Linked DNA regions of Homo sapiens: regions 2, 3, 4, 5 and 6 are each linked to region 1. The links come from fine-mapping of genetic effects on plasma protein levels. Region 1 holds a variant in brackets. A gene starts in each other region. All regions are shown on their forward strands.

Region 1 (4,855 bases):
CCCTCCACTCCCAGACAGGCCCCAATGTGTGATGTTCCCCTCCCTGTGTCCATGTGTTCTCATTGTTCAACTCCCACTTATGAGTGAGTGTGTTTGGTTTTCTGTTCCTGTGTTAGTTTGCTGAGAATGATGACTTCCAGCTTCATCCATGTCCCCGCAAAGGACACGATCTCATTCCTTTTTATGGCTTTGTAGTATTCCATTGCCACCTTAACTTGTAACAGATTACATTAGTCTGCCTGTTCCTGAACTTCATATAAATGTTCTTGGCTCTGGTTTCATTATGTTTGTGAGATTCAGCCACAGTTTTTCATGTACTTGAAGATTCATTTCCACTGCTGTGAATATCCCACAACTTATTTGTCCATTCTCTGCTAATGGGCATTTAGTTGCTCTCATTTTAGGGCATTTTTTTTTTTTGAGACAGTTTATCCTTCTGTCACCCAGGCTAGAGTGCAGTGGTGTAGTCGTGGCTTACTGCAGCCTCGATCTCCCAGGCTCAAGCCATCCTCCCACCTCAGCCCCCTGAGTAGCTGGGACTACAGGCATGTACCACCACACCTGGCTAATTTTTATTTTTTGAGACAGAGTCTTGCTCTGTTGCCCAGGCTGGAGTGTAAGGGCTCAATCTTGGCTCACCGTACCTCTGCCTCCCGGGTTCCAGTGATTCTCCTGGCTCAGCCTCCCGAATAGCTGGGACTACAGGCACGTGCCACCACACCCCACTAATTTTTTAGTATCAGTAGAGACAGGGTTTCACCATGTTGGCCAGGCTGGTCTCGAACTCCAGGTGATCCTCCCGCCTCAGCCTCCCAAAGTGCTGGGATTACAGGCATGAGCCACCACGCCCAGCCCACACCTGGCTAATTTTTAAGCAATTTTTAGTAGAGACGAGGTTTTGCTATGTTGCCCAGGCCAGTCTCGAACTCCTGGGCTCAAGCAATTCTCCCACCTTAGCCTCCCAAAATGCTGGGATTCCAGGCATGAGTCACCATGCCCGGCTGGGGCTATTCTGAATGAATTCTTGTGCATGTCTCTGGGGCACACTGTATGCACTTCTGTTGGGTGTATAGCCAGCAGGAGAATTTCTGGTCATAGCAGATGCCATGTTCAACTTTAGTAGATATAGTTAAGGTCATGTTAAAAGCCACAATGAGTCAAACCTATGGAAATTCATGTGAAGCTGATATGGTGGCTTCAAGAGAAGAGAGAAGGAGGAGGCATCATGCCACCCTCAGACCTTGGTACCCCACATCTGCTGTAATTCCCTCCTCTGAGATATCAGCCTCAACACTGAGTTTCTGTACAGTGTTTCCAGCCATCTTTAGGTAAAAATAAGTCACACTTGGAAACAAATGGTTTCTCTTATATGCTTTTGTCTGGCAAAAGTATATTGTAAGTGATCCAAAAGGAATTGATTTACAAAATCTGAAAATATCCAAAAACAAAACCTGCCAAATGAATTTAAATTTCAGGTCATCAGAACCATTGCTCTGATGTCACTTTGTGCCACCCTCTGCCCTTTCCACACTCCAACGTTACAGTTATCTTCCAGAACACTGGCTTCAGCCTTGGCTTGTCCCTCCTGATGGGCTGCCCTTTCCTCAGCTCTTCAAGGGCAGTGCCTTCTTCTGCCTGTTCAATTCTCAGTTGGTTCTTCTTTTCTTTTAGCCAATCACTCTCTGTCTTATGACCTGTTCTATTTTCTTTTCTTTTATTTTCTTTTTCTTTTTTTCTTTTTTTTGAGATGGAGTCTCACTCTGTTGCCCAGGCTGGAGTGCGGTGGTGTGATCTCAGTTCACTGCAACCTCTGCCTCCTGGGTTCAAGCAATTCTCTGTCTCAGCCTCCGGAGTAGCTGAGATTACAGGTGCCCGCCACCACACCCAGCTAATTTTTTGTATTTTTAGTAGAGATGGGGTTTCACCATCTTGGCCAAGCTGGTCTTGAACTCCTGACTTCGTGATCCACTCGCCTTGGCCTCCCAAAGTGCTGGGATTACAGGCGTGAGCCACCGTGCCCAGCCGAGCTACCCTATTTTCTTCATTGAGTCTATCCCTTCTTGAAATTATTAGAATGATTTTTCACTAGCTTGTTCAGTGTGAGCTCCCAGTAAGCTCCTGTAATGCCTGGCACATAGTAGATGCTTAAGAAATCTTTCTAGAATGAATGAATGGGCTGAATGAATCATCAGGGAAGCTGGCTTGAGGAAACTTGATCTTGGGCCATCTTCTTGGGGACGTGTGAGCTCCATTTGCCCCTCTGGCCCCTGTGGGACCGAGGTAGTTATGAACTCTGCAAATTGTTGATTCCTTTGTGCCTGCAGATCAGGCACTGCCCTTGTCAGGGACCTCCTTTGGTGCTTGGCTCTGTGCCAGAGGACACGGTGACAACTGAGGT[G/A]TGAATGCAATGTCAATGATTGACTAGGACCAGCACTGGGCTGCATATTTCCAGGCACAGACTGTGGCTGCATCATTAATAGAGGCCTAGAGGCAACCTGAGTCTCCCTCCTTCCAGAGCAATGGCCATGGCCAAGTCTCCTGCCATCAATCCTTGGAGATTAGATGAGAATGGGACTGGGGCTTTGACCCTGCAAGGACTAAATCCCACCAGTGTCCTAAGAGGAGTTTTCATCAAAGTCACATTGCAGAAGATGCGTAAAGCACTGTCTCCTCTCAGCTCAGAGGAGCCCTGGCAAGTAGGCAGAACTGGCCTTACTCATCCTGTTTAGAAAATGAGAAATTGGGCCGGGTGCGGTGGCTCACACCTGTAATCCCAGCACTTTGGGAGGCCGAGACAGGTGGATCATGAAATCAAGAGATTGAGACCATCCTGGCCAACATGGTGAAACCCCATCTCTACTAAAAATACTAAAAATTAGCTGGGAGTGGTGGCACATGCCTGTAGTCCCAGCTACTCGGGAGGCTAATGCAAGACAATCACTTGAACCCGGGAGGCGGAGGTTGCAGTGAGCCGAGATCGCACCACTGCACTCCAGCCTGGCAAAACAGTGAGACTCCATCTCAAAAAAAAAAAAAAAAAAAAAGAGAAATTGGAAGCCTGGTTGTAAAAGGCTCGTTGAAGTTCCCATGGTTACTGCTCATCCTAAAATCCAGGCATCCTCAATCCCTGTCCCAGCTTCATCCTGGCATTCCCTTTGCCCTTTCTCTGGTTAGAAGTAATACTGAGGAAGCAAGCCCAGCAGAAATATGGGTGGGTACTTTACCCTATGCCCACCTGCAGTGGGTGCTTCCAATTCCATTGTATTCAAAATCTAAAACTTTTATTATTATTATTTTAAAATTTAGAGACAGGATCTCACTCTGTCACCCAGGCTGAAGTGCAGTGGTGCAATCATGGCTCACTGCAGTCACAAATTCCTGGGTTCAAGCAATTCTCCCACCTCAGCCTCCTAAGTAGCTGAGAATACAGGTATCTGCCACCACACCTGGCTAAGTTTTAAGGTTTTTGTAGAGACAGGGTCTTGTTATGTTGACCAGGCTGGTCTCAAACTTCTGGGCACAAGTGATCTTCCCATATCAGCCTCCCAGAGTGTTGGGATTACAGGTTGAGCCACTGCACCTGGCTCAAAAACTATTTGTTAAGAACTTAATTGTTCCAGGCATTGGACTAGAATGAGAAAACTAATAGTCTGATAATAATAATGAACACATCTGCCTCTTGCTTAGAGTACAGCGCAATGTAAAGCGGATTTCAACATACTATAGCCTGTAGTCCAAATCTGGCCTGCTGTTTGACTGTATAAATAAAACTTTATTGGAACACAGTCATTCCCATTTGTTAACACGTGGCTGCCTTCACATTGCATCAGCAGATCTGAGTAGTTACAACAGAGACTGCCTGGCCTGTAGGATCTGGAATATTAATAATCTGGGCCTTTGCAGAAAACATTTGCTGACTCCACCACTACTCACTGGGCAGCTTTGAGGAAGTTATTCTACCTTTCTGTGCCTCAGTTTCTCCATCTGTAAAAGCACCTCTTATATTGGGGTGTTATGACATAGGAGAAGGGTCTAGAACAATGCCTGGAACACAGTATATGCTACAGGTATGTGTCAGGCCGTGTGCCTTGCAAACATCATTTTATCTTCCCAACAGTGTAGAGGGGTAGATCTTTTCACCATCCCCATTTAACAGATGGAAAAACTGAGATTCGACGAGCGGCAGTGATTGTTTCTTAAGCCTGTGGTAAGGATTTGGATGCAGAGGGGAGTGCTGTCAATTCTGGCAGTCTCTTTAGAGGACCCAGGAGTGCAAGTGAGATCAGCCACTGCCCTTGTGATGCTCTCTGTAGAGAACAAGCAATAAGTAGCAGATGTAATTCTTTGAGGCGAGGGCCTTGATGGGGAAAACACAGATGCTGTGAGGCCACAGAGGTGGAGCAGGCACCCTGGCCTGAGCAGTCAGGGGAGACTTCCTAGATGGGGTGATGATGAAGCTTCCTGTATGGCAGACGAGGTCCCAGGCACTGGTTTCCCTGATGAAGGGGGCTCAGAAGTCAAATGCCTTGGGGACCTTCTCTGCTAGTTTCACCCACAGTCTGGAAGTTGCCATATTGTTACTTTGTCGCCTCTAAGTGGAGTCAGTTCTCTCCTGCCCTTCAGGAGGGAAGGTCATTGCAGCACCTGGGCCACTCCATTAGCAGTCATGGGCTCCGATGACCTAGGGCCTCTCATTTCCTCACAGCTCTCCCCAGAGCAAACACATCACAAAGGGCTCCTTGCTGGTGTCAGCGAGTCCCCCTTGTTGAGGGTCATCCCCTGGTATCTATAGGAAACAGCATCCTCTGTTGCTTCTCTCACTGCTCCCGCCCTCCCTCCCCATCTCTTCTCTGGC
Region 2 (4,855 bases), not on the chromosome of region 1:
GGGTGTTCACGCTCCCAGACTAACACAGCGGCCTGTGAATCATGGTTCTCTCTCTCCTGAGACGAGAGTACTGAGGGTAGACATTAATTCAGCCCAAGCGTACAGCTGTGGCCCCAGAAATTGGTCAATTTGATCCGCGAATCCAAAAGGGTCATCTAACAGTGGTTTGAGTTCTTTTAGATTTCTAACCTCTGAACTGGTTAAAGGGGGCATTTACGAAGTCAATATCCCTTCCTCCCGGTGGTCCTTCCCTAAAGGGGAAAAGGGCTGAGGCAGGTCTTTTTGAGCAGGAGGCAAAAGGAAAGTTCTGTGGGTTTTTGTTTGTTTGTTTGTTTTTTGAGACGGAGTCTCGCTCTTGTTGCCGAGGCTGGAGTGCGGTGGCGCGATCTCGGCTCACTGCAAGCTCCACCTCCCGGGTTCAAGACATTCCCTGCCTCAGCCTCCCGAGTAGCTGAGTAGCTGGAATTACAGGCGCCCGCCACCACGTCCGGCTAATTTTCGTATTTTTAGTAGAGGCGAGGTTTCATCATCGTGGCCAGGCTGCCAGTCCTGAACTCCTGGCCTCGTGATCCACCCGCCTCTGCCTCCCAAAGTGCTGGAATTACAGGCGTGAGCCACCGCGCCCGGCCGAAAGTTTCGAATATCCCTTTGGCATTGTTCTGTTTCCCGTTGGAGCTTTCCTGAGGAAGGGGCATGTTCTAGTGGCTGTCCAGCGGGGATGTGGGTGGCAAGGTCCAGGTGGTTCTATAGGGGAGGGATGGAGGGGCGGAGGAGCGGGTGGGGGAGGGGCGGAGGGGCGAGGGGTGGGTGGGAGGGGCGGAGGGGCGGGTTGGGGAGGGGCGGAGGGGTGGGGTGGGTGGGTGGGGGGGGCGGAGGGGTGGGTTGGGAGGGGCGGAGGGGGTGGGTTGGGAGGGGCGGAGGGGGTGGGTTGGGAGGGGCGGAGGGGGTGGGTTGGGAGGGGCGGAGGGGGTGGGTTGGGAGGGGCGGAGGGGTGAGTGGGGGAAGGTGGTCTAGAGGATCCCACCCTTCTTTAGATATGGGGCGTCTCTGCTAAAAATACAAAAATTAGCCGGGCGTGGTGGTGCGCGCCTGTAATCCCAGCTACTCAGGAGGCTGAGGCAGGAGAATCGCTTGAACCCGGGAGGCGGAGGTTGCAGAGAGTCGAGATCGCGCCGCTGCACTCCAGCCTGGGTGACACAGCGAGACTCCAACACACACACACACAAAAGATATGGCGCGTCTCATTCATTCACAAGTTCCTCTTCAAAGGTTTGGCTCGTTCAGCGCCCTCGTTCTTCGTTTCCTACTTCCAAGGCCAACCTGACTTCCTCACCCTCTGGGCCTCCCCGTCTGAGTCTCAGTAAACAAGTTTCCCGCCGGTCCTGATCTGCAGAGATGGCACCTGCCACCCACTCTGCACATCCCCCTCCCGTCGCCACGGGCTCTTCCCGCCAGTGTAGCCACATTCCTGCCCCTTTCCAGTTAGCCCTTCGCGTTCGGCTTAGTCTGCGGTCCTCTTGCATTGCGACTCCGAGTTTAACTTCCAACACACACTTTCAACCTCCAAGAGACGCCCCCACCTGTGTCGCCCCAATAGCGACTTTTCTCACCGTGGTCGCCGCGGAACTTCAAGGGTCCTTCCTACCCGCGTTGCTGAGAGTCTGGGTTTACGCGTCACCTCGGGCGGGACCCGATCCTCCGCTCCTGAGGCCCCCACAATGAAGCAGTCGGACGCGTCTCCCCAAGAAAGGTAACCGCCAGCCTCTCCTGAAACAGAATGGGATCCAAATGGGATATTTGGGGGCGGCGAGTCGGTCCCGCAAAGAGAAACCAGCACTTAGAAAATTTCTCAGCGAGACCACTTTACTTGTACGGAAGGGGGCTGCCTGCGTGGGATGCAATCTCCAGAGCACACGGGACAAAGGAAGGGAGCTTCTGTTCCTCTGTCCTTTCCCTGTTGGCTGGGGTTGGACGCCCACAATCTAAGCTGATCCCGGTTGGCTAAAACTTAAAACTTTTTTAAAATAGGGTAAACGCGCCACCTGCGAGGAAAGAAGAAGGGGGTAAGGTTGATTGACAACTTTAGACCTGGAAGTTGAGTTTCTGAAGAGGAACTTACTTGTCCCAACCAAATGGTGCACAGGACGTTTATACTAAGAAATTATTCATTTTCTGAGATCCAGATTCAAGTGCCCTTTAAGTATTTTTATTTGGGCGGAGGAGGTCACTTCCTCCCACCTAATTTATTAATACGTTCATATATATATATATATATGTACATTTTTAAAGGCAGAGATGTGCGTCTCGCCATGTTGCCGCGTCTGGTCTCGAGCTCCCGGGCTCAAGCGATCTTCCCGCCTCGACCTCCCAAGGCTCTGGGAGTACAGACGTGAGCCACAGCGGCCGGCCCGTGTTTAACTCAGATAAAATCTGGGTAACACACTTTCAACGCTTCAACCCCCTCGGGCGCACCGCTCTGCGCTCATTGCAACTTTGAAAGCAGGAAGGAAGAAATGCGCAGGCTCCAGCCGCGTCCCCGCAGGCCCCACTCCCGTTTCCTAGCAACGCCGGGTCACGTGCGCCGCCGCCCGGATTCCGTAGCGTGAGCCTGCCGGAGCCGGCGCGTACATGCGAGCGTGTGCGCGCGTGCGCAGGCGGGGCGACCGGCGTCCCCGGCGCTCGCCCCGCCCCCGAGATGACGCCGTGCGTGCGCGCGCCCGGTCCGCGCCTCCGCCGCTTTTTATAGCGGCCGCGGGCGGCGGCGGCAGCGGTTGGAGGTTGTAGGACCGGCGAGGAATAGGAATCATGGCGGCTGCGCTGTTCGTGCTGCTGGGATTCGCGCTGCTGGGCACCCACGGAGCCTCCGGGGCTGGTGAGGAGCGGGTAGGGGGCGGGGGTGCGGTCCTGCAGGGGCCGGGAATGGAGGCCGCGGTGCCGACCCGAAGCCGACGGGAGCCTGGGGCCTCGGCGCGGGGCGGCCTGGGGTGCGAAAGGCCGGCCCCGGGGGCTTCCCGCGCCAGCATGGAGCTTGGGGGTGAAGTCCCAGGGTTTGAGGGGGGACTAGAGGTTCCTCCCGGCGCGGCCTGCCGGGCTCCCCCGGGCGCTCCGGCCTCGAGCCCGGCCTCTGTGTGTGGGCGTGAAGCTCCCTGCTTGGAGGCGGGAGCCAGGGGGTCCTGGCCAGGCCGGTCTTGGTCAGGGGAGGTGGGCGTCTTGCTTTTCGGTCACCTGGGGTTGGGGGTGACCTGCTTCCTGGGTGAGGGCGTCTGCGAAGGCGGTTGGAGGTGGCCCGCCCGCCGGTCCCATCGGCCAGGAGAAGGGAGACCCAAAGCCTGGGTGAGCGTCCCCTTTGGCCTGGAGCCAGGGGTCAGGGGCTGGTTGGTGCCTGCCCAACCCGTCCTGCTGGGGCTGGACTCCGCAGGACCTGGGGAAAGCGGCCTGGGCGTGGAATCTGGAGACGGGTCCACCCTGCCTGCGAGTGTTAGGGTCAGAGACCCTCCCCTGAGACTCTCTGGGGCCCCCGCAAGGGCCCGTGCGGCCTGGAGCGATCATCTTGGCGCTCCCTTCTGGAAAAGGGGCTTTTGTCCTCCAAGAGCACATGGAGGCTCTGAGTGGGTCAGCCCTCCGGATCGGGAAGGGATTACCGTTCTTCACGGGATTTAGCCCTGGCGTCTTGCCTAGGGCGTGCACCTGCCCCCGGGTGTTCTCCCAGACTCTTAAGACCTCGCAGGCTCCCTCGAGGGGCCCTGCGTGGAAGGGAAGGCGGAATCTCCCTCTGATTCTGCCTGGATTCAGCACCCAGAATGAGGTGGTCTCTGAACGCCCCTCCTCCTTTACAGGCGAGGAAACAGCCCTGTGGGAAGTCGAGGTTCCAAGGTCACAGTGAGGGGGCCCTGGCCACCCGATTCAGCGCAGGAAATAGTGAGAAAGTCGTTTTTAGCCGACTCTGACCCGCATTCGGTTTCCAGTGCTGTCTTAGGAGGGCCGTGTGTTGAGGGTGGGCAAACGTGGTTTGGAGAGCGCATTTGGGAAATGGATTGAGGTGTGTTTTTCCGGGAGAAAAGCATGACATCCTTTCTTGCTTCATAGAAAATTTCTTCCTTTGTTGAGACCCCCATTTGGTTCTGGGTTAAAGATTTATAGTGAGGCCGGGCGTGGTGGCTCACACCTGTAATCCCAGCACTTTGGGAGGCTGAGGCGGGTGGATCACCTGAGGTCAGGAGTTCAAGACCAGCCTGGCCAACATGGTGAAACCCCATCTCTACTAAAAATACAAAAATTAGCTGGGCGTGTTGGCGCACGCCTGTAATCCCAGCCACTCAGGAAGCTGAGGCAAGAGAATCGCTTGAACCTGGGAGGTGAAGGTTGCAGTGAGCTGATATCATGCCACTGCACTCCAGCCTGGGTAACAGGGAGACTCTGTCTTTAAAAAAAAAAAAAAAAGAGGTCGGGCATGGTGGCTCACGCCTGTAATCCCAGCACTTTGGGAGGCCGAGGCGGGCGGATCACGAGGTCAAGAGATCAAGACCATCGTGGCTAACACGGTGAAACCCCGTCTCTACTAAAAATACAAAAAATTAGCCTGGCGTGGTGGCGGGCGCCTGTAGTCCCAGCTGCTAGGGAGTCTGAGGCAGGAGAATGGTGTGAACCAGGGAGGCGGAGCTTGCAGTGAGCCGAGATCGCGCCATTGCACTCCAGCCTGGGCGACAGAGCGAGACCCCGTCTCAAAAAAAAACAAAAAAAAAATTTATTGTGACCGATGTGTTGGGAACAAGGTGCAGAGCTGGAGGGTCTGGCCTCCTGAAGGGTCAAGAGCAAGGGCTTCGAGCCTCTGTCCTGGGCATTGAGCCGTAGGGGG
Region 3 (4,855 bases), not on the chromosome of region 1:
AGGAAGCCAATACTCATGATAAAGCATTTTGCTAATGGCCTAAGAGGGAAAGTTAGTTTAGAAATGTGAAAACAGCTGGAGTCTTTGGTAATTAGTTTCTCTTGCTGTTCTTTATTGTAACTTTCATCAGTGACAGGCATTTAAATTCTGAATGCATAAGCCACATTTTAGAATGGGCCCTGCATCACTTTTTAATTAAAAAAAAAAACAAAAAAACCTACATTTCCAAGAGAGGGGAACTTCTTCCTGCATCCTAGAGGAACTCTCTGGAAAGTATAGAGCTGATCACTTCCTGTCTTAACTTTGAACTGAGTGAATTACTTTTCTATCCTTTCTAACATGACAGCTCTCTGGCATTCCTGCCAGTAATAACTTTCTTGGAGACTTACAAATAAAAGACAGACATAACTCTTTCCCAGTGTTTTAAATAAATGTATTGTTTTTCTCCATAAAAATGGAACCTGATTATCTCTCCAAACTCCATTTCTAGAATTTTGAGAAACTAAAATTTGGCATTCAGGACACATGAGCTCCTCCAGATTTGAAAGGGGTTTCAAAGGCTCCAAACCTGCCTCATCTGTCAGAGTTTTGGACAAATGCATTTCATTTATCTTCCTAGAGTTCCCAGAGGATTCTGGAGTTGCTACATGAAAGACGTGTTGGGATTCTTGAATACAAGGCACGGAGGGCCAAGGATTTTCTTCTGTTCTCCATATTGCCAGAGGAAGTGACATGGATTTGCCAGTATTGCAGGTTTTAACATCTGCATTCTGTTTATGATTTTGTTGCTTAGGAGATCTGGCTAAGACATTTGGCCCCTTTGACTTTTGTTCCTCATCTGTAGAATGGGAATAATTAAGTCTGCTTCTTGTCTGCCATTCTTGCAGCGGACGATGGTGGATAAATGAACATGCTTTCAAACTTTTGAGTTCTGACGAGCAGTACTCTCAACAAAGTGGAAAGTGAAAAACAGGTTCTTTAGTAGCAAATACTTCTTAAAGGAAGTATGTCAGCTTCGAGTGTAAATTTTATTCTTTGGATAATCTTAGAATTAGTGGTATGTAGTGTTTATTTTCTTTTTACTTTAATTTTCACTGCAGTTCCCTAACAGTGATTCCTATTTACTTAATCATTTGCAGCTGCTCTGCTCACCTGTTTTTCTGGACCCAGGAGCAGTCCCTCAAGAGTTTTATTATAATTTCCTTCTAAGTCCTTAAACCAGGAGGAATGTGTTTAAGTGCTTAATAGATTCCCTGGGCTTTGGAATTTTAAGGAGAATTCTGAGAGTAGCCCTCCTTCAGGAAAAGGTGCATTTCTTTCCCGTCTTTCCGTGGCCCGACGGACATCACTTTCCTGATAAAATTGTGTGGGAAAGGTTGCAATAGCATTGCCTTTGCCTCAGCAGCCAGTCCCAGAACTTGCTGATACAGCCCCCTCCCCCAAAGTTCATAGCCAAAGCAGTGGGCTAGACATCGGATGAAACCTCAGATTTGGATTTTCTGTGTTTTGTGCTTTTCCCAATGCCCCTGACAAGTCAATTGATTCATTGTTCTTGAACAAATCTTCACTCTTCTGGCTTTCTGTGTGAGACAGAATTAGGGCTTTTTCCTGTAAAGTTATAAGCCAAGGCTAAACTATGTCAGCAATGTTGTCTGCAGTGGATATTATCCAGAGTCTGGGTGTGCAAAAATTTCCTGGTTTCCAACGTAGTCTTCGTGGGTGAGTTTACAACCTCCACAAGCCCTGTGCTCCCCGCACAAACACCTGAAATGCTTTGACAGAGCTGTTTAAAAACAGCCACATGTGTCTGTGAATGATGCCCAACCACATGCTCCCCCGACTTGAGAGGATCAAGGCTACAGCCCAGGTCAGACCCCGGATCTTTAGGACCTAAATTCCCCCATCCCTGCAGTGGATAACCCCGTGTAAAGATGCCAAAGGCGGGCTGCCCCCGGCGCAGCCTTTCCTGGACATGTGTTCCCAGCTGCCTTTGCTGGAGCGCCGCTGATCCTTCAGCACCTCTGAGAGGCAATGTTCTGGGCTGGACCAGGGGGCCTTAGAGGGCAGAGGTCAAGGAGAACCCCGGAGTCTGGGGACCGGCCAAGGCTTGGCGTTAACCTTTGTGGATGAAAAGTCCCGCTGGGCTGATCCTGCGCGGACCGGGCCTGGACCCTGGGGCGTGAGGAGGGCGCGGTGCGTCCCGTGGTTGTGCTTGGAAGCCCCCCGAGGGTGCGCGCGCGTGGGTATGAGTGCGTGCGTGTGCCTGGGTGTGCGTGTGTGTAAGTGTGCACGTGTGTGTGTGAGAGTGCGCGCGGGGAAGGAGGCACAGAGACAGCCCGGACAGGCCACTGCGCAGCCCTGGTGGCCCCCGCTCCACCTCTCGCTCCGCAGACCCGCGCCAGGGAGGCCTCTGGGCCGCAGCGGGCACCGGAGCGGAGCGGGCGCGGCAGCGGGCGCTGGGAGGTGGGGCTGGGGGAGGAGAGGGGGAGGGAGAGAGGCGGGCGGGAGGGGAGGATCCGGGAAGCTCCGGGGTATTTGACAGGAGCGAGGGCGGACGCAAAGAACGCGGAGGACCTCTGGGTGCCTGCAGGGGAGCTGCTCCAGCCGGGCCGCCGGGAGCGGTGGGGAGAGCATCGCGGAGCCGCCCCTCCACGCGCCCGCCCAGCCGCGCTCGCCCACTGGGCTCTCCCGGCTGCAGTGCCAGGGCGCAGGACGCGGCCGATCTCCCGCTCCCGCCACCTCCGCCACCATGCTGCTCCCCCAGCTCTGCTGGCTGCCGCTGCTCGCTGGGCTGCTCCCGCCGGTGCCCGCTCAGAAGTTCTCGGCGCTCACGGTAAGCCCGGGCCCGCGGGACCTGGAGCTCAAGTGGTGCCGCCTCTTGCAGCCGGCCGGGTTCGGGTCCCCGCGCCCCGCTCCAGGCCCAGGCGCCTGGGCACGGGGAGCAGGTGGCCCCGGGGGCCGTGGAGCCTTCGCCTGCCGGCGAGGCTGGAGCAGGTAGGACGCAGCGTGCGCGCCTGGGACCCGGCTGGGATGGGCTTCTGGGGACCCTGCCCGCCGGGGTCCTGCTGCGGCTGCGACGGGCTCCTCGGGTTCCACCCGGCTGGGACCCCACCTGCCTCGGGGGCTCTGACCCGGCTGTGAGAGGATCCTGGGGTCCTGCAGACCCCGGACAAGTGGGAGCTGCGGGTGCGCTCGGGTGTCCCGCACTCACTGCTGGGCCTGAGCCTGTGGGGAACCAGGTCTGGGAGCGCCGGCGCCGCCCCGCGGACTGTCCCAAGGCCAAGACAGACCCGCCGGGACTGGGCGCCCACCTCGCCCACGGGGACCCGGCCTGGAGCGTGTTCTCCCGACCGCTTTGGGCTCGTGCGCCGCGCGGATCCCGGGCCTCTCGCCGGCTGAAGGGGCTGCCAGTCGTGGGCCCCACTCGTGGGTCTGACTCTCCCAGAGACCCTCGTAAGTGAGCCGAGGAAGAAGCAGATGAGGTTACAGATGATTCTTCACGGGCCTGAGTGTTATTAGAGAAGCGCTTTCTTCCCTTCTCAGGACAGAACTGGAGGCAGGCGGCGGCTCCCCGCTCTGCGGGGCCTCTGGGTTCTTCCTCGTGGCAGGGATGCTGCGCTCCTGAGCGCGAGGGTCACCGCGGTTGACCGCTGTGTGTTTTTCTTTCTGAGCTGTAACTTCTATGCGACAGCCTTGGCCCGGCCAACGCACGCGGTGTCAAACGAGGAGCTATGTAGAGGGGGCTGAGCCAAGCCCCCGCCGGCCAAGCCAACCCGCGGCGGCCGCTGGGCCAAGGCCGGGTGTCTGCAGCCCCCAGCTCCAGCCGTCCTCCTGGGCTTGCAGGGTTTGCAAACCCATCATTAATGCAATCGCCAGAAACGAAAACATTCCACTTAAATGTGTTTTTGAACAAGTGTTTGAGAAAACACGAAGGTAGTGAGAACGCCTCTGGTGGACAGCCGTCTTTTTTAAGTGGCCGGGGACTTGTCCTAAAGGTGTTTATTGTATTGAAAATAAAGATGGTTGAAATAAGCTGTGGTCGGTTCTGCCTTTCAGCAAATTTAAAACAGTCATGTGGGCATCTTTTCTTTTTCTTTTTCTTTTTCTTCGTCTTCTTTCTTTTGCGTTTTAGCAGTGTGAAGGATGGTTTGTGAGTTCATTGCTCATACCTCAAATTCTTCTGCAGCAGCCCGGGGTCCCTGCCTTGTGTCTCACAAATGACTTGTAGATTAGAAACTGCTAACTGGGGCTCCAAGGAGGTTTTCACACACTCAGGCTTTCCCTGAAGATCCTTTATCTCCCCAGAGGGGGCCCTCAGAGGATACTCACTGGAGGCATTCATGTATATGCACATCTGTACATGCATCTAGACATAAATATACTCACGTATACACTCACAAAAAGACCCCCCACATACTCTTAAAGCACACTAGAGGAGACAGAGAAACTAAGGCCAATTCTCCAAAGGAGATCATAGCATTTTCTTCCAGGACTGTAGCAGCAGGTACCTACAGTTGCCACGGATTTTCAGATTTTCTGAAAGCGCAAAAAGTAGAGACTGCCATCTGCCTGCTGCCCTGTGTGTGTGGGGGGTGGGGTTGGGCCTGTTGGTCCCCCCTGGAAGAGCAGAATCAAGGTAGTTAGTAATTAGAACAGTTTAAGACTCGGCAGGTTTTCTTGTCTTCTCTCCCCTGTCTCATCTAACTATTTACTTGAACCCTCTCACCTTTTGCCCCCTTGAGGTTGCCCCAAGGATGTCTTGGGTTGCGGTGAGACCCGCTGCATGTGGGGTCTCTGTGCAGGAGCTGATACCCCACGTGGGCTTTGCCCTGTTGGCTGCATTCCCCAAGAACAG
Region 4 (4,855 bases), not on the chromosome of region 1:
GAAGAGAGTTGACATCAGTGGTGTTTCCACAAGATTCACAGTTGCCCATGAGTATGGTTACTCCTCCTAGGAGCCTGAGGCCTTACAGACTGAAGAATTTTAAGGCTAGAAGTGTCCTCAAAATAAAACCCAATGTTTTTATTTTATAGGAAATTAGTGGAGGCCCAGTGGGATGAAATTACCTGTCCCAAGGCAACATGTTAGTCGCAAAACCACCCTGGATGGATCTTGTTTCTATTCGCCAGGGGCTGGCAACTCACAAGATACCTAGTGTCAGCAATGTCAGAGAACTAGAGCTTTTGAACCCCAGGTCTGCGTGTCACCTTGGAGACATACACAATACCTGCTCTAGCCATGCCTGTTGAAGCGCCCAGACAAACATCCATCACTCAGTTCACGGAACAAATTACATCAGCAGGAAGAGACAAAGAGAAAACAACCATCATAACGGAAAAGGCTTTCCAATCCAGCCAAGGTTCTCATGCCAGGAATAACCACTCCAAAACTCTTTGTGTGATATACATATAAATTCTAGGGTACATGTGCAGGATGTGCAGATTTGTTTCATAGGTAAACGTGTACCATGGTGGTTTGCTGCACCTATCAACCCATCACCTAGGTATTAAGCCCAGCATGCATTAGCTGTTTTTCCTAATGCTCTATCCCCACCCACCCCACCTGCCGACAGGCGCCAGTGTGTGTTGTTCCCCTCCCTGTGTCCAAGTGTTCTCATTGGTCAGCTCCCACTTATTAGGCCAGAACTCTTTGGACCAAACAAATCTGCAGCTTCCCCTACAAGGGCCTTTCCTGCAGTTTGTTCCGGAATGCCAATCCCTAACTCTCCAAAGAGTCCTATCTCCGCACTCACGGCCCCTCCCGTGTTAAGTACACATGCAAAACCAAGGTTTAGTGAATATGTTTCCTAAGATATAGGACATAAGTAAAAAGAAGTCTTTGCCTTTAGAAAGCCTCAAGCACTTCTGGGCTTGGCAATGTCTGTGGCGGTTTGGCTGAGGTTCTTAAAGAGGTGGCCCAGAATTTTCCATGCTCTACTTTTCAAGAGCTTCTACCAGCAGCTGTCAAAGATGAATGCCATTAGGCACCCCACTCTCTCACCCTAAGATCCATTTTATTTAGGCTTTTATCTCCTAAGCCACTCAGCTAATGGGATGTTTTTCTTACAGCTAAGTTCAGCAAACAGTTTCTAGTTTCCACTGTGAAAATACAGAGGCCACAAGTTTTAGGACTGTTTGGCTTGTAGGGGAGGCAGCCTCCCTTTCTGCCTCTCCTTCATAAACTGCCACGTAAATAGCCACATTTTGGCAAACGTTGCCATCTCCCTCAACATTCGGGGCTCTGTGCCTTCTTCAGGGAACTGGGAGTAAACCGCCAGGAGTGGAGAACTTGAACAACTGCTCAGGGATCGCAGGGTACCTGAAATAATTAGCAGCCGCCGCGTTTGTGCTGAGCGCTTTCCGTCAATCATCTCAACCACCCTGTGAAGTGAAGCCTATTGTTTTACCCATCAAGTGCTGTTAAATACTTCCAGAAATGACCAGTGAAGAGCCTGGGTATCACTAAACGGCCATAAAAGGCACACTGCTTAATGTTGGTTTTTTTTGTTTGTTCTTTGTGGGTTTTGTTCGTTTTTGAGGCGGAGTCTCGCTCTTATTGCCCAGGCAGTAGGGCAATGGCGCGATCTCGGCTCACCGCTACCTCAGCCTCCCGGGTTAATGTTGTTTTTTGAAAAGTCAGCAGTCAGACTCTAAGAAGGGTGCGGCCCGAGCCGACCCAAGAAAACAAAACATCACGTTGTACTTAAAACGTCCGTTTCGGCCGGGCGCGGTGGCTCACACCTGTAATCCCAACACTTTGGGAGGCGGAGGCGGGCGGATCACGAGGTCAGGAATTCAAGATCAGCCTGACCAACATGGGAAAACCCCGTTTCTACTAAAAATACAAAATTTAGCCAGGCATGGTGGCGCATGCCTGTAATCCCAGCTACTCAGGAGGCTGTGGCAGGAGAATCGCTTGAACCCGGTACACGGAGGTTGCGGTGAACCCAGATCGCGCCACTGCACTCCAGCCTGGGCAACAGCGAAACTCCATCTCAAAAAAAAAAAAAAGTCCGTTTCGCCCGACACCTGCTTTTCAAAATTACACATTTAGACCGCGAGGGGAGAGAGGAACTGCCGTGACCACGGAGGGCTGGCCTTTCCCCCGGCGCAGTTTCTCTGGACCGCTAGAGCTTCCCTTGAGACGAAAGCGATGGCAGGGGCCCGGGTGCGAGGCTGCCCCCGAGGGAATGGGGGGCGCGACGGGGGTAACGGGGCTGCTTCTGGGAGAGGGCGCGCTCCCCGTTTCTCCTTCCTCGTAGATAAAATGAAGCCAGCGTTCGGCTAGGACACCGGGCCGCGGTGACGGGTTGGAAGGGCCAGGCCTCGGGAGGCTCGCCCGGCAGGGGTCGAGTGGAAAGCGAGGACGGGGGTAGCCCCCACAGACCCTCCGCCCGGGCCCAGACTGCCGCCGCCACCTCGGCTCGGCTCACCCAAACCCCAGCAGGCCTTCGGGCCTTCTTACCTGGCGGCGCCCAAGATCCTCTTCCAGCCTCGAGCCGCTTCTGCGCTCAGCCCCCGCATTCTTTCGCTCCAGCCCGCAAGGCTCCGCCCCCCGGCCCCGCCCCTCAGGATGCCCTTGCCCTCCCAGGCTCCCGGCTCCCGCACCGCGCAGCCGCACCTCGGCAGGAACCTCCTCCTCTCCCTCCACCCCCGCGCGGAGCTCAGCCTCCTGGCCCAGGTTCTGAGAAGGCCGGGTGGCCAGGACCCAATGAGCACCTTCAAAACCCCAGGGAACTGAAAGTTTGGGGCGTCCTCCTCGGATTTGCTATGGGACATAAAAACAGTAGGAAACTTCCAAAGACTTCTGATTTTCCCTTTTACTTTTTTTTTAAGTATATTAAAATGTTTTTCAAAACGTTTCTGTGCGTCTTGCTGGTGCCCTGGGTGCCCCAGGGCCTGGCTATCGGGCTATGCGGCCCTGCTGCAGTCTGAAGCTGCTTCCTACTGCGAGGCTTGGGCAGCATCCAAATAGCCATCAGCCACAGCCGCATCCGTATCCGTGCCTTGTGACTTGTTTGAGACCCAAACAAAATGTTATGCGTTTAAAAGCTTACTGGGCTGCTCGGGGACCAGTGTTTTGAATGAACCTCTTCGAGTGTCTCTATCAACTTAGCTGGTAGCTACTGTTCCCCAGCAGCCACCAGAGGCAGGGACAGAAGAGCAAGACCAGGGGATCCGCCTGCATGAGTCTGTCCCTTCAGGGTGGCCTCGCCTCAGGGACTGGATTGTAGGCATGGTTTCAATAACACAGCGGTGTGAAAGTTTAAGAGTTTTTAGTACTTACGGACCCTGGGTGGTACACAGCTTGCCTAGAGGACACACACACACACACACACACACACACACACACACACACGGAGATCAGGGAGAACAGGGAGAGGGAAGGGAGGAACGGACCTTTGGGCCAGCAACTTTATCCAGTTAGGTTTCCTCTGGAGAGCTCTAACTGGTGGATTTAAAAGCAAGCAGGTGAAAAGGCAGAGGTGGGAGGAACTTGAACCAGAGTTTGAAGCTGCAGTAGTGCCCTGTTATCACATCACTGCATGTTTATCTCTGGCCACCAGCTAGAGCCATTTGCGTGGGGTATAGTACTGGAAACTGTCAATGGTGACTGAGACTTGCTTCTGTTATTAAAAGTTAAACATATTCAAAAATGGATGCTGAGGTAACAAAAAATTATAAGCACTCACCAGAACCGCAACCACCATTTGGAACATTAGTTTTATGTGCAGATGTAATTAGAAGTTTCCATTTGCTATTATATTTGGAAAGTGTCCCACTCACTGCAGAACTGACTGTAAGAACGCCATAGGAGGGAGGGTGGGGCTACAGGCCAAAAGTACAAGTCTTCCTCCAAGAGGATGGCCTCTGTTAGAAAGCATGAGACACACTTTGAGGGTCAGGGTGAGAAGATATTACATCTCAGGGCTGCTTGTGTTGAACTGGTCAGGGAAGAAGGCATGAGATAAAATTTAAGCAGGGGGAATCATAGATTACTGAATGTCTTGCAGGGAAAATCATATAGTAACTGTCTTGACGCTTCTACTGTTATTCTGATGGCTTTGGGATGTCAGGGAATGAGTTCCATTTGGTGGTGCTCAAATCCTGGTATTCCTCTATACAAGTGGGAGTTTTTTAAATCAGGATGACTTGCTTTGATATTTAAAGCATGTCTCCTTAAAACAGCTAATACTGTATATTTCCCAAGATGGATTCCAAAGCTCTTTTGTGTACATACCTTACACACATCCTGTTAGCTATTCCTTCCTTGACACGCTTGGCTTCTGAGATGCCACTCTCTCCTAGTTTGGTTCCCTAGAATGGTTTCTTGACCATTCGGTCTTGAGATTCTTTTCCTTTACCCACTAATAATTTGGTGTCCCAGGATTAGACTGAGAACCATGGCTGTGTGTGCTCCCTGGGAGACTATAGTGTATCTACTCTTTTACCTTGGGATGTATGTTTGCAGATGATTCAAAAGTCTGTCTCCATCCCTGACCACTCCCCCTATCTTCATATTCATATCCAGCTGACTGCTGGACATCTCCACTTATATGTTCCACAGACATCTTGAACTTAATGTGCACAAATCTGAATTCATCTTTAAAGAGTGACTGCTTTTCCTGAATTTTTTTCATAAATGAAGACAGAAACCTAGGAATCAACGTTGACCTCTTCCACTCCCTCACATCTACTCAGCCATTCCTGCCTATTTTACCATTTCAATATCTCAATTT
Region 5 (4,855 bases), not on the chromosome of region 1:
AATGCTTCCCTCATAGAAAAAGAGTAGCTGTACTTAGGTTCTGGTTTTCAAAGTATGGTCCCTAGCCCTGCAGCATTGGCATCACCTGGAAACCTGTTAGAAATGCAAATTCTCAGGTTCCAGACCTACTAATCAAAACTCTGGGGATGGGGATCCTGCAATCTGTATTTTAATAAGCCTTCCAAGTGATTCTGATGCATGCTTAGGCTGGGCACTGTGGCTCACACCTGTAATCCCAGCACTTTGAGAGGCCAAGGCGGGCAGATCACCTGAGGTCAGGAGTTCGAGACCAACCTGGCCAACATGGTGAAACCCCGTCCCTACTAAAAATACAAAAATTAGCCGGGTGTAGTGGCGCCTGTAATCGCAGCTACTTGGGAGACTGAGGCAGGAGAATCGCTTGAACCCAGGAGGCAGGGGAAGGGAAGGGAAGGGGAGGAGATGGGAGGGGAGGGGAGGGGAGGGAAGCCTGGGGGACAGAGCAAAACTCAGTCTCAAAAAAACAAAAACAACAAAAAAAATGATTCTGACGCATGCTCAATTTTGAGACCTGCTGCTCTAGCTGATGGTTGTTATATCTAAGATTGCAGGACTGTGTTGCCAGATCTTTTACTTTTTCCAAGAGAAGCTAGAGGTTTATTTTTATATGAAATTCGCTACTTTTAAATCTTGGCAACTAATTTAAAAATTTAAAACATACTGTGTAGTTAATAATGTATGTGCTCTAGCCAGATTTGCAACCTCTGATTTATGCTTTTTCCTTTAACCCTTATAATAATCTTATAAAACCCTTATAATAATCATCCAAGACTGTTAGGATGATACACAGTTTATGCAGGAAGAAGATGCAGGCCCAAAACATGAAGTGTTTCTCTAAGTCACATAGCCAGAAAGTGGCCATGGATGCATTGTCCCTGATTGGGCATGGATGCATTTGGTTCTAAAGCCTCTGCCCTTTTAAATGATGTAAAGAGAATATCTATAACTATACCTAGCACGGAACTTGGCACCACAAAAGCTAAACATCTGATGCCATTGACTGATGAAAATTCCTTCCCCATCCTTCTGCCTGGCCCTGCCACTCTCCCTCAGTCTGTATTCCTGTAAGAGAGAGCCAATCAATAGGGTGCTCATAAGGGCCTGGGAGGAGCAAGGCTGGGCAGTTTCCTGGCCCAGGGAGCTGAATAGGGCCCGGAAGAAAGCTGTTGGCAGCAGTGCCTGGGGCTGAATGTACAGTAGCCAGCTGGGTCCACGGGCTAAAAACTGGCTGCTCACCCCAGTGTTCTCTTTGTGCCCTAGACTGGGTTTCACTAGCCTGTTATGGGCTGTGTTCCCACCTGGCTCCTGCCCTCATTGTTGACTGAGCTCAGAGTAAATAGCCCTGGCCCCTCCCAATAACGTCCCCAGTCCCCAAGTTGAGCATGAGAAGCTGGGGGAGGTGTTCTCAGCATCCATTTTGGGGACAGTGGCCAGATGTACTCACATCACCAAACCCTACTCACCTGTCACTATCATCCCAGTGTTCACTGCCCCAGGGCCCCTCTAGCCTCCAGCAGCAAAGACCTCCTGGGGCTTCTAGAACCTCAGATCATTGGAGCAGGAAGCACTTCTTGTCTAACTCCCTGGGTAACTCTGTTTTGGCACTTAACCCCCTGGATTCTAAAGCTTCATTTATACTTATTGGTCTCCTTCGTCACAGGAGACACTTATCTGTGGAGCACTCATGGCCATGTATCCAGTACCTATCATGGGTCAGGCCTGGAGTCCCTGTGTCAATCAGTGTGGATCTACTCTCAATGCTCCCAGTGAGTACATGGTTGTTCCGTGGCAGGAACGTTGCATTTGTGTTCTCACTGAAGTCCCATATAGGTGTCATTTTCACTGATGATGTGGCAGCTCAGATCCAGGAAAGGATTCATTCCAGGGCCCTCAGGTGGGAAGTGGTGGAGGTGGGAGTCAGACCCCAGACCCTGTCACCCCTTCAAGACCAGTGCTGGAGGGCCCCTTTTGACGACTTTCTCTTCACCAAGCGTCTTGCCCTGCATATGTCACACAGTAGGCACCCAGTGAATATTTACGACGGAATGGAAAAAACAAGGGCCTGGAGGGAGAGACCTGGGTTCAAAACCTTATTTGTACAGCTTTGCAGGGGACCTTGTGGTGGAGGTGCGGTCCTAAATCCCTAAACACTCAGTTCCTTTGTCATATACAGCTGATAACAGTAACTCCCCGGTCAGAGGACCGGCGACAATTCCTTGAGACAAGGAGCACAGAGCCTGGCACAGTCAGCCCTGATCAGGGGCCGGTAGGACAAAGAGAGGGAGACAGAAACACACACCCAAACGGCTTGAGACTGCTAGGTGCTTCACCTTCCTGGGCCTGTTTCTGATGAGGAGGGTTTGTTTATTAATAATAAGTGCTATTTCTGTAGCCCCTACTATGTGCTCTGTATCACTACCCTAGCCCTCCATCAAGAGGGATCTGCCCTCTCATCTGGCTGACCCCAAATCGAACCCTTTAACCCGCATGCTCTACTGCCTCCCTGCGGGCCCTGCCTTATCCTCCTCAACCGCCCACTGGGGACACTCTGGAGAAACCTCGGAGTCTTGGAATAGAAACCCAGGAGCCCTGAGCCTTGGCCCTCAGGCCCCAGGAGGGAGGTCAGGAGGGAGGCGTGGACAAGGGTCCGGCCGTAGCTGGTCCCGTCCTGGAAGCTGCTTAAGTTCCTGGTTCCCACCGGGGCCAAGAGTGATACCTGATCCTGGGGGATTGTGAAATGACCTCATGTGGCAGCCCGCCCGCGGTGCCCGCAAAGCCCTCCACCCTCCCCTTCCCCGCTCGGCTCCACCCCTACCCCACGCCCCCTCCCGCGCGCGCGGTTAAATCCCCGCACCTGAGCATCGGCTCACACCTGCACCCCGCCCGGGCATAGCACCATGCCTGCTTGTCGCCTAGGCCCGCTAGCCGCCGCCCTCCTCCTCAGCCTGCTGCTGTTCGGCTTCACCCTAGTCTCAGGTGAGTGGGGCGGGGAGAGGCCCGGCGCCTAGAGGGGCCGAGCCACGAGCGCCAGGATGGAGCCAGGCGGAGGCGTAGCCTCTGGAGGCTGGGGAAGTGGGAATTCCGGGGGCGGAAGTGGCGGGGACCCTTGGAGCCTAGGGTGTGGGGTCCAATGTGCTGGAGGTGGAGAGACCACTGATGGCTGCAATTTGGGAGGATTCTGTGCTGAACGCGGACACTCCGTGGCTGCAGTGGGCTGGGGGTGGGGGCTGCTCTGCCTCGACCTCGGAAGCTCCGAGACGCTCAGCTGTGCGGCGTCCCCTAGGGCTGAGATCTGAGGGCCCCGACGCCAAGGGTTAGGGAGCTCTCGTACTCCCAGGGGTCAGGGACTCCTGGTCTGGAAGAAGGAGTCTCTGGGGGCTGTAAGGGGACTCCTAGGGCCAGAGACTGAGAATTCCTTGGGGTTAAGGTTTGGAGCAGGAGGTGGGCATCCTCTGGGGCTGGCGCTACGCCCCACCCTCGACTGTCCCGGGCCTCCCCTCCCAGGCACAGGAGCAGAGAAGACTGGCGTGTGCCCCGAGCTCCAGGCTGACCAGAACTGCACGCAAGAGTGCGTCTCGGACAGCGAATGCGCCGACAACCTCAAGTGCTGCAGCGCGGGCTGTGCCACCTTCTGCTCTCTGCCCAATGGTAACCCCACGGCGGCCGAGCGGGAACGGGGCGGGGCCGCGCTGGGCTGGGAGGAGGTGGGAGGGCCCGGGTTCCGGGAACAGGGGCGCCCCCGGACCCGGGGACCCCCGGGAAAGTCAAGGCGGTTGAAACCAGATCCGTCAGTCCTCTCCCTCGCACGGCCCAGGGGTAGACAAAGGCGTCGTTGAAACGCAGCCAAGGGGGGGTCCCCACCCCTAGCTGGGATTCGAGTCTCTGGTGCATGACGGGCTTCCGGGCACGCACAGCCGGGACATTGTTCCCCGCGGCCTGGGGACCCGGGGCCGCAGTTTCCTTCTCGAACCGGCCGAAGCCTGCCCTGCGGGAAAGCCCGGAGCCTGGGGCGCTCACCTCTCCTCTTGGAGTCCCTCCCTGGGGGCCTCCCCCAGCCCTGGGGAAAGACTGGGAGAGCCTGGCCTGGCAAGATTTTCCCCAATTCCTCTGTCCAGGCGGAAAGGAACTTTACAGATTTAGGAAAATGCCCCGCTCATCTTAAAGATGTGTAAGGGAGCATCGGTGAGAAAAAAATGTTCTTGCCCAAGGTCACACCGCCATCCCATGGCTGCTGGAGTCATAGTGAGGGTTCAGCTTTTGCCTTTCAGGCCAACTGGCTGAGTGATTCGAAGAAAGTGAGGAATCCTCCCTGGACACTGTATCGCCCTTCGTCGTCTTTCAGTCAATCTCTTCCACTCTAAGGATTGAGTGAGCGCGAGCTGGGGACTCTCTCAAAGGTGCTTGCTGGAGCTGCAGTCTCCACCAGGCTATCAGAACAGGGGGTGGCTTAAACAGCATGGAATCTCAGCTTTCCGTTCTCCAGAGGAAAATGCTGAGGATTAGAGGCAGGGATAGGACCTGGAGAGAACCAAGGTACTGTAATGATGTTCTTTATCCAGAATACAGCCCCTGTGACTTTTCCTCTCTGTTATTTCCTTGAAGATGCCAGCACAGGCTGGGAAGGTTTGTAATACGGTGACCCAAGACACCGATCAGCAGGGAGGTGGTAAGTGGAGGGGGACTGGCAGCCCACCAAGGGCAGCTTCAAGGTCATGAGTCCCCTCCTCTGGGCCAGGGAGAGGAGGACCAGAAGGAGAGAGGAAGATTTGGAGAGAAAGCAGGCAGCAGCCAGATGAGAGAGGTGGAGGAGCAAAGG
Region 6 (4,855 bases), not on the chromosome of region 1:
GCGGGCCAAGCAGCAGCTCAAGGGCCCAGATACAGAATCTTCTTGGGTCCAAATACCCCCTAGAGGTTTCCCATTGGCCACTTGGTGCTCACCTCATGTAAATGAAGTGGTGGCCCGCAATCAGTCTGACTGGTTAATCAGAGGCCGAAGTGAAGTTACAAAGGTCATGCTCCTGTGCAAACATCTGATTGGTTGTGGAAAGCAACCAATCAGGCTGAAGTGAAGTTACAAAGTTGCACTTCTATGCAATTTTAACATATAAACTGAAATGTAGCATAGAAATCGAAATGTACTTTCAATTTCCCATCTGCTGCACAGAAAAGGTGGGGGGTTGTAAAGAGAGTAGCCTCTGGTCCTCTTGTTACTTAGGTGTGGAAAGTTAGGGTTTTCCTTTCGATTTAGTTCTAGGAAGTCAGCGTGAAATGGCCTTAGGTTCCCTGCCTGCAGACTCTATTCTCCTACCTCAGTTGGGCTAGGTGAAAGGGAAGAGTTGATCAGAATGGGAGGATCATTATGTAAAGTATGGAGCTTAGTTAATAATAGTGTACCAATGTCATGCCCTCAGATTTAAAAAAAATTTTTTAATTTTTTATTCTTTTGCCACCTCCTTGTCGCTGGCAGTGCCCCCCAGTTATGCACAAGCACAAGCTCTGGGTCTGCAGTCTGAACCCCCGGCCAGGCCACGGGTGTCTTATCAACAATAGAGGAAACGAACAGAACTTTGTAGTATTTTTGCAACTTTTCTGTAAACCAAAATAAAAAGTTTACTTTAAAAAAGATGATCAGGTGAGTTTTAAATTCTACACATGCATTCATGTACTCAACAGATTGTCTATTATGCATCAGGCACTGGGTATAAATGAGTGCCTGCATCATGATGCCACCCCTTGTGTAGTTTACAATCCTGTGGTAAATTGGCGGTATTGGTAACAACATCCCTGTTTTTTCTAAAAGCAAATCTCCAACTAGTATATTAACCTGACAAAATCTTGGCTGATGGGGTGTCTAAAAAGAAGTCTTGCTCTATTCCTTCCTAGCTGTGCGACCTTGGCAGAGCTAACCTCACTGTGTATCAGTTTCCTCAGTGCTAAAATTGGGGAAGAAAAAAAAAAAGCATTCCCTTGTGCGTCCTTAGCATGCTTTCAAGCAGTTACTAAATGTTAGTTTTTATAACGGTTATAATTATTAAAAAGATACGGATTCGTGAAGTCAAGAGATCAAGACCGTCCTGGACAACACGGTGAAACCCCGTTTCTACTAAAAACACAAAAATTAGCTGGGCGTGTGGCGCGTGCCTGTAGTCCCAGCTAGTCGAGAGGCTGAGGCGGAAGAATCGCTTGAACCTGGGAGGCAGAGGTTGCAGTGAGCCGAGATCGCGCCACTGCACTCCAGCTCGGGCGACAGAGCGAGAGTCCGTCTCAAAGCAAAAAAAAAAAAAAAAAAGACACACATATGGGGAAGCGTAACATGGCAGAGAGTCTGACATTTTTGTCCGGAAGGACTTGGGGATGAAAACACTGAATCCGCGGTTTCCCAAAGGTCCTTCCAAAGGTGACGGCCCCGGCACGAGTTCACAAACCACAGCTCCGCCCCATCCCCTGCCCGGCCCCGCCCTTCCCAGGAGCTCTGCTCCGCCCCGCCCCCGACTCCGCTCGGCCCCTCCTCGCGCCACGCCCCCGCCCCTCCCGCGCGCGCAGCTCCGCCCCGCCCTCGTGATCCCGCCCCAACCTCGTGCTAAGCTCCCTTCCGTTCCAGCCGCCTTCAGCCCCGCCGCGCTCAGTTCCGCCCCTTTCTCTTCCAACTCCGCCTACGCCCCAGAGAGGGAAGGCCTTGACACCTACGCTAGAGAGACAGGCTCCAATGAAAAGAGCGAGGGGGCGGAGCCGGGAGGAATCGGTCCAATTCTCGGCCGGGAAGTCTCTGGCCGGGACGGGGCAGGGCGAACCTGCCAGTGACTGGACTCAGCTTCTTTGCGTAACCAATACTGGAAGGCATTTAAAGGCACCTCTGCCGCCACAGACCTTGCAGTTAACTCCGCCCTGACCCACCCTTCCCGATGCAGTCCCTGATGCAGGCTCCCCTCCTGATCGCCCTGGGCTTGCTTCTCGCGGCCCCTGCGCAAGCCCACCTGAAAAAGGTGAGTGCACCCTCTTTTAAGAGTCTGTTTGCAGCCTCCTGGCCCAGCTACGGGTGTGCGGGTCTGGCTGAGATATGGGGGTGGCCACTCCGTTCTCTAGAATTGGTTCTCTGCACTAGAGCCTTCCAAAGTAACTAATTATGGGATTCTGGTCTGTACAATGAGGGTGGCCTCTAAAGACTTGTTCTGCTCCAGGCCCTTTTTGGAGAGATTAATCTCACGTCTGCACTCTCCTGCCCTCCCTCCAAGCGCCGGAGTGAAAATGCAGACAGCCTTAAAACTAAGGCATTGCCCCCAGAGATTCAGTCCTGTTAACCCTGCACCTTACTCCTGACCCCCACTCCTTATGTCCCCCATGATAAGGCCTGCTGCCTCATCTCTTCCCCTGCTCGAATGCCCTGAGGTCTTCCTGAGAGTTGGGAGGGTTTGAGAGCTTTTCCAGGCCAGAGGATCCAGATTTGCCCATCTGGTGACAAATACCCAGGCCTGTGACCCCGCTGCCCTTGGTTATGAGCCACTGAGACAACAGTCCCCGTACCCTCCAAGCTTCCTCCTTCACTTCTCATTGACACCGCTTCTTCCTTCACTTCTCATTCACACCGTGCTGCAGATCCCTGGGAAAGGGAAGTTCTGTAATCCCTTCACCTGAAAAAGCCTCGTTCCTGGCTTATTGCAGCTAGCCCAATGTCTTTCAGATTCAATCTATGTTGTTGCAAATGACAAGATGTTCCCCCTTTTAAAGGCTGAATAGTATTCTGTTGTGTATATATGCCACATTTTCTTTATGCATTCAATTTGATGGATAATTTCTTCATCAAGTGTCTGTTGATGGATAATTTCTTTATCCATCAAGTGTCTGTTGATGGACACTTAGGTTATTTCCATATCTTAGCTATTGTGAGTAATGCTGCAATGAATATGGGAGTGCAGATAGCCCTTCGAAATGTTGATTTCAGTTCCTTTGGATATATACCCAGAAGTGGGATAATGGCTCATATGGTAGTTCTGTTTTATTATCTCATTTATATGCGGATTCTAACCAAGTTGAACTTACAGAAGTTGAGAGTAGAGGTGGGGTCTCACTCTGTCACCCAGGCTGGAGTGCAGTGGGGCGATTGTAGCTCACTGCAGCCTTAAACTCCTGGGCTCAAGCAGTCCTCCCACCTCAGTCTCCTGAGTAGCTGGGACTGCAGGTGTGGGCCACCAAGTTCTGCTAAGGAATAGGCTTTGAGATTTATTGCACACCAGGGTGACTATCGTCAGTAATGTATTATATACAGAAGCTCCTTAACTTTCCATGAGGTTATGTTCTGATAAACCCATCATAAGTTGAAAATGCATTTAATACAGCTAACCTGAGAATCATAGCCTAGCCTACCTTAAACATGCCTAGCCTACCTTAAACATGCCCAGAACATTTACATTAGCCTACAGTTGGGCAATATCATCTAACACAAAGCCTATTTCATAATAAAGTGTTGAATGTCTCATGTGATTTACTGAAGACTGTACTGAAAGTGAAAAACAGTATGGATACTAAAAGTACAGTTTCTACTGAATATTTATCACTTAGGCACGATTGTAAAGTTGAAAAATGGTATGTCAAACCATTGTAAGTCAGGAACTGTGTGCATTTCAAAACAACTAAGAGAATACATTTCACATTGCAGTGTACCCCATAAATGTATACAACTATGGTTTGTCAATTTAAAAAAAACCCAAGACCAGGTGCGGTGGTGCACACCTGTAATCCCAGGACTTTGGGAGGCTGAGGTGGACAGATTGCTTGAGCTCAGGAGTTCAAGACCAGCCTGGGCAACATGGTGAAGCCCCATCTCTGCAAAAATACAAAAATTAGCTGGGCGTGGTGGTGTGCGCCAGTATTCCCAGCTACTTGAGAGGCTAAGGTGAGAGGCCCAGCTACGCCTGAACCTGGGAGGTCATGGCTACAGCTGAGATTGCACCACTGCATTCCAGCCTGGGTGACAGAGTGAGACCCTATCTCACAAAAAAACCCCAAAAACAAAAACCCGATTCCATTGCCTCTTGGCTGCTAGCTGTGGTCAAGACATCACACATTTCTGGTAGCAAAGGGATAGGTCCAACCCTGATCCCCTCCCTTCTACCATCTTGGAAGTGTTTGAGAGTGAGGAACAGTGCTGTGTAGGGGAAAGCGGGTGATACTGAAAGCAGGGAGGCTTGGCTTCTGATCATTCCCCTGTCTCAATCCATGGATTTCCTGAGTCTTGTTCTCCTCATCTGTAAGATGGGTGTGATGGTGCCAACGTGCATCTCGGGGAGTTGTCGGTGAAGGGAAATGCATTCATTGATGGAAAATTTCTAAAATCAGAAACAAATAAAGCCATATAAATCTGTGGGCTTGGCCTCACTCTGCCCCCGAGGCAGAAAGTCTGTTTTGCTTGTTGAATGAAGGAACGTGGACCTTTTGACTTCATTTGCCTGGAGAATTTATACCTTGTTCCTGAATGTTGGCTGAGAATGCTTCTCTTGGCTCCAGGGCTGGCCGCTATGAGGTGGAGTCTGGCTAGAGGCTGCTAGCTCACCCTACAAACTTGTTGTATATGCTGTGGGTATGGATGCCATCTCAGACTAGGTCTTAGATTGGCAGTTTTGAAGAGGCCCTGAGACATTATAAAGGTCACTCAAAATCACACAGCACCTACATCTTCTTGGGGCTCATGTGATTCAGAGCCCTGA

Which allele goes with the higher level. Positions count from the first base shown, and alleles are read on the strand shown. Strength reflects both the effect of a copy and how common the allele is.
For the plasma level of the protein whose gene starts at base 2,767 in region 2, allele A in region 1 goes with a lower level than allele G (weak association).
In carriers of allele G in region 1, the plasma level of the protein whose gene starts at base 2,563 in region 3 tends to be higher than with A alone (weak association).
With allele G in place of A in region 1, the plasma level of the protein whose gene starts at base 2,622 in region 4 is higher (weak association).
For the plasma level of the protein whose gene starts at base 2,908 in region 5, G is the high allele of the variant in region 1 and A is the other (weak association).
In carriers of allele A in region 1, the plasma level of the protein whose gene starts at base 2,025 in region 6 tends to be lower than with G alone (weak association).

Evidence for each region. A credible set is the group of variants that fine-mapping cannot tell apart. PIP is the posterior inclusion probability: the model's chance that the variant is causal. The UK Biobank Pharma Proteomics Project read protein levels with antibody pairs (Olink). The fine-mapping took linkage between variants from a reference panel, not from the people measured, so its PIPs are less certain.
Region 2: it holds the start of BSG, and the variant in region 1 is the best candidate, but not a certain one, in a credible set for the plasma level of the BSG protein (UK Biobank, PIP 0.53).
Region 3: it holds the start of SMOC2, and the variant in region 1 is the best candidate, but not a certain one, in a credible set for the plasma level of the SMOC2 protein (UK Biobank, PIP 0.90).
Region 4: CD59 starts here. The variant in region 1 is the best candidate, but not a certain one, in a credible set for the plasma level of the CD59 protein (UK Biobank, PIP 0.82).
Region 5: it holds the start of WFDC2, and the variant in region 1 is the best candidate, but not a certain one, in a credible set for the plasma level of the WFDC2 protein (UK Biobank, PIP 0.81).
Region 6: it holds the start of GM2A, and the variant in region 1 is the best candidate, but not a certain one, in a credible set for the plasma level of the GM2A protein (UK Biobank, PIP 0.90).

Annotation. Positions count from the first base shown.
Region 1 is chr16:20,378,612-20,383,466 of GRCh38, forward strand. The region is part of intron 3 of PDILT (protein disulfide isomerase like, testis expressed); the gene reads right to left. Among named protein-coding and RNA genes, the nearest start is that of PDILT, 24 kb to the right of the region's middle. The variant G/A (reference allele first, on the strand shown) is at 2,399.
Region 2 is chr19:569,830-574,684 of GRCh38, forward strand. It overlaps BSG (basigin (Ok blood group)), which reads left to right and starts at 2,767. Exons shown (of 9, transcript NM_001728.4): 1 at 2,767-2,872. The coding sequence starts at 2,806. BSG-AS1 (BSG antisense RNA 1) reads right to left here and starts at 2,419. Exons shown (of 3, transcript NR_184018.1): 1 at 2,280-2,419; 2 at 1,611-1,767. RefSeq lists enhancers at 1,015-1,587, 1,668-1,717 and silencers at 2,538-2,757, 2,928-3,107.
Region 3 is chr6:168,438,622-168,443,476 of GRCh38, forward strand. SMOC2 (SPARC related modular calcium binding 2) reads left to right here and starts at 2,563. Exons shown (of 13, transcript NM_001166412.2): 1 at 2,563-2,833. The coding sequence starts at 2,750.
Region 4 is chr11:33,733,802-33,738,656 of GRCh38, forward strand. CD59 (CD59 molecule (CD59 blood group)) reads right to left here and starts at 2,622. Exons shown (of 4, transcript NM_000611.6): 1 at 2,581-2,622. RefSeq lists a silencer at 2,271-2,740.
Region 5 is chr20:45,466,846-45,471,700 of GRCh38, forward strand. It overlaps WFDC2 (WAP four-disulfide core domain 2), which reads left to right and starts at 2,908. Exons shown (of 4, transcript NM_006103.4): 1 at 2,908-3,015; 2 at 3,544-3,687. The coding sequence starts at 2,937. RefSeq lists silencers at 3,573-3,762, 3,783-3,832.
Region 6 is chr5:151,251,161-151,256,015 of GRCh38, forward strand. GM2A (ganglioside GM2 activator) reads left to right here and starts at 2,025. Exons shown (of 4, transcript NM_000405.5): 1 at 2,025-2,137. The coding sequence starts at 2,057. It overlaps LOC124901115 (a long non-coding RNA gene), which reads right to left and starts at 25. Exons shown (of 3, transcript XR_007059003.1): 1 at 1-25. RefSeq lists a silencer at 1,636-1,985.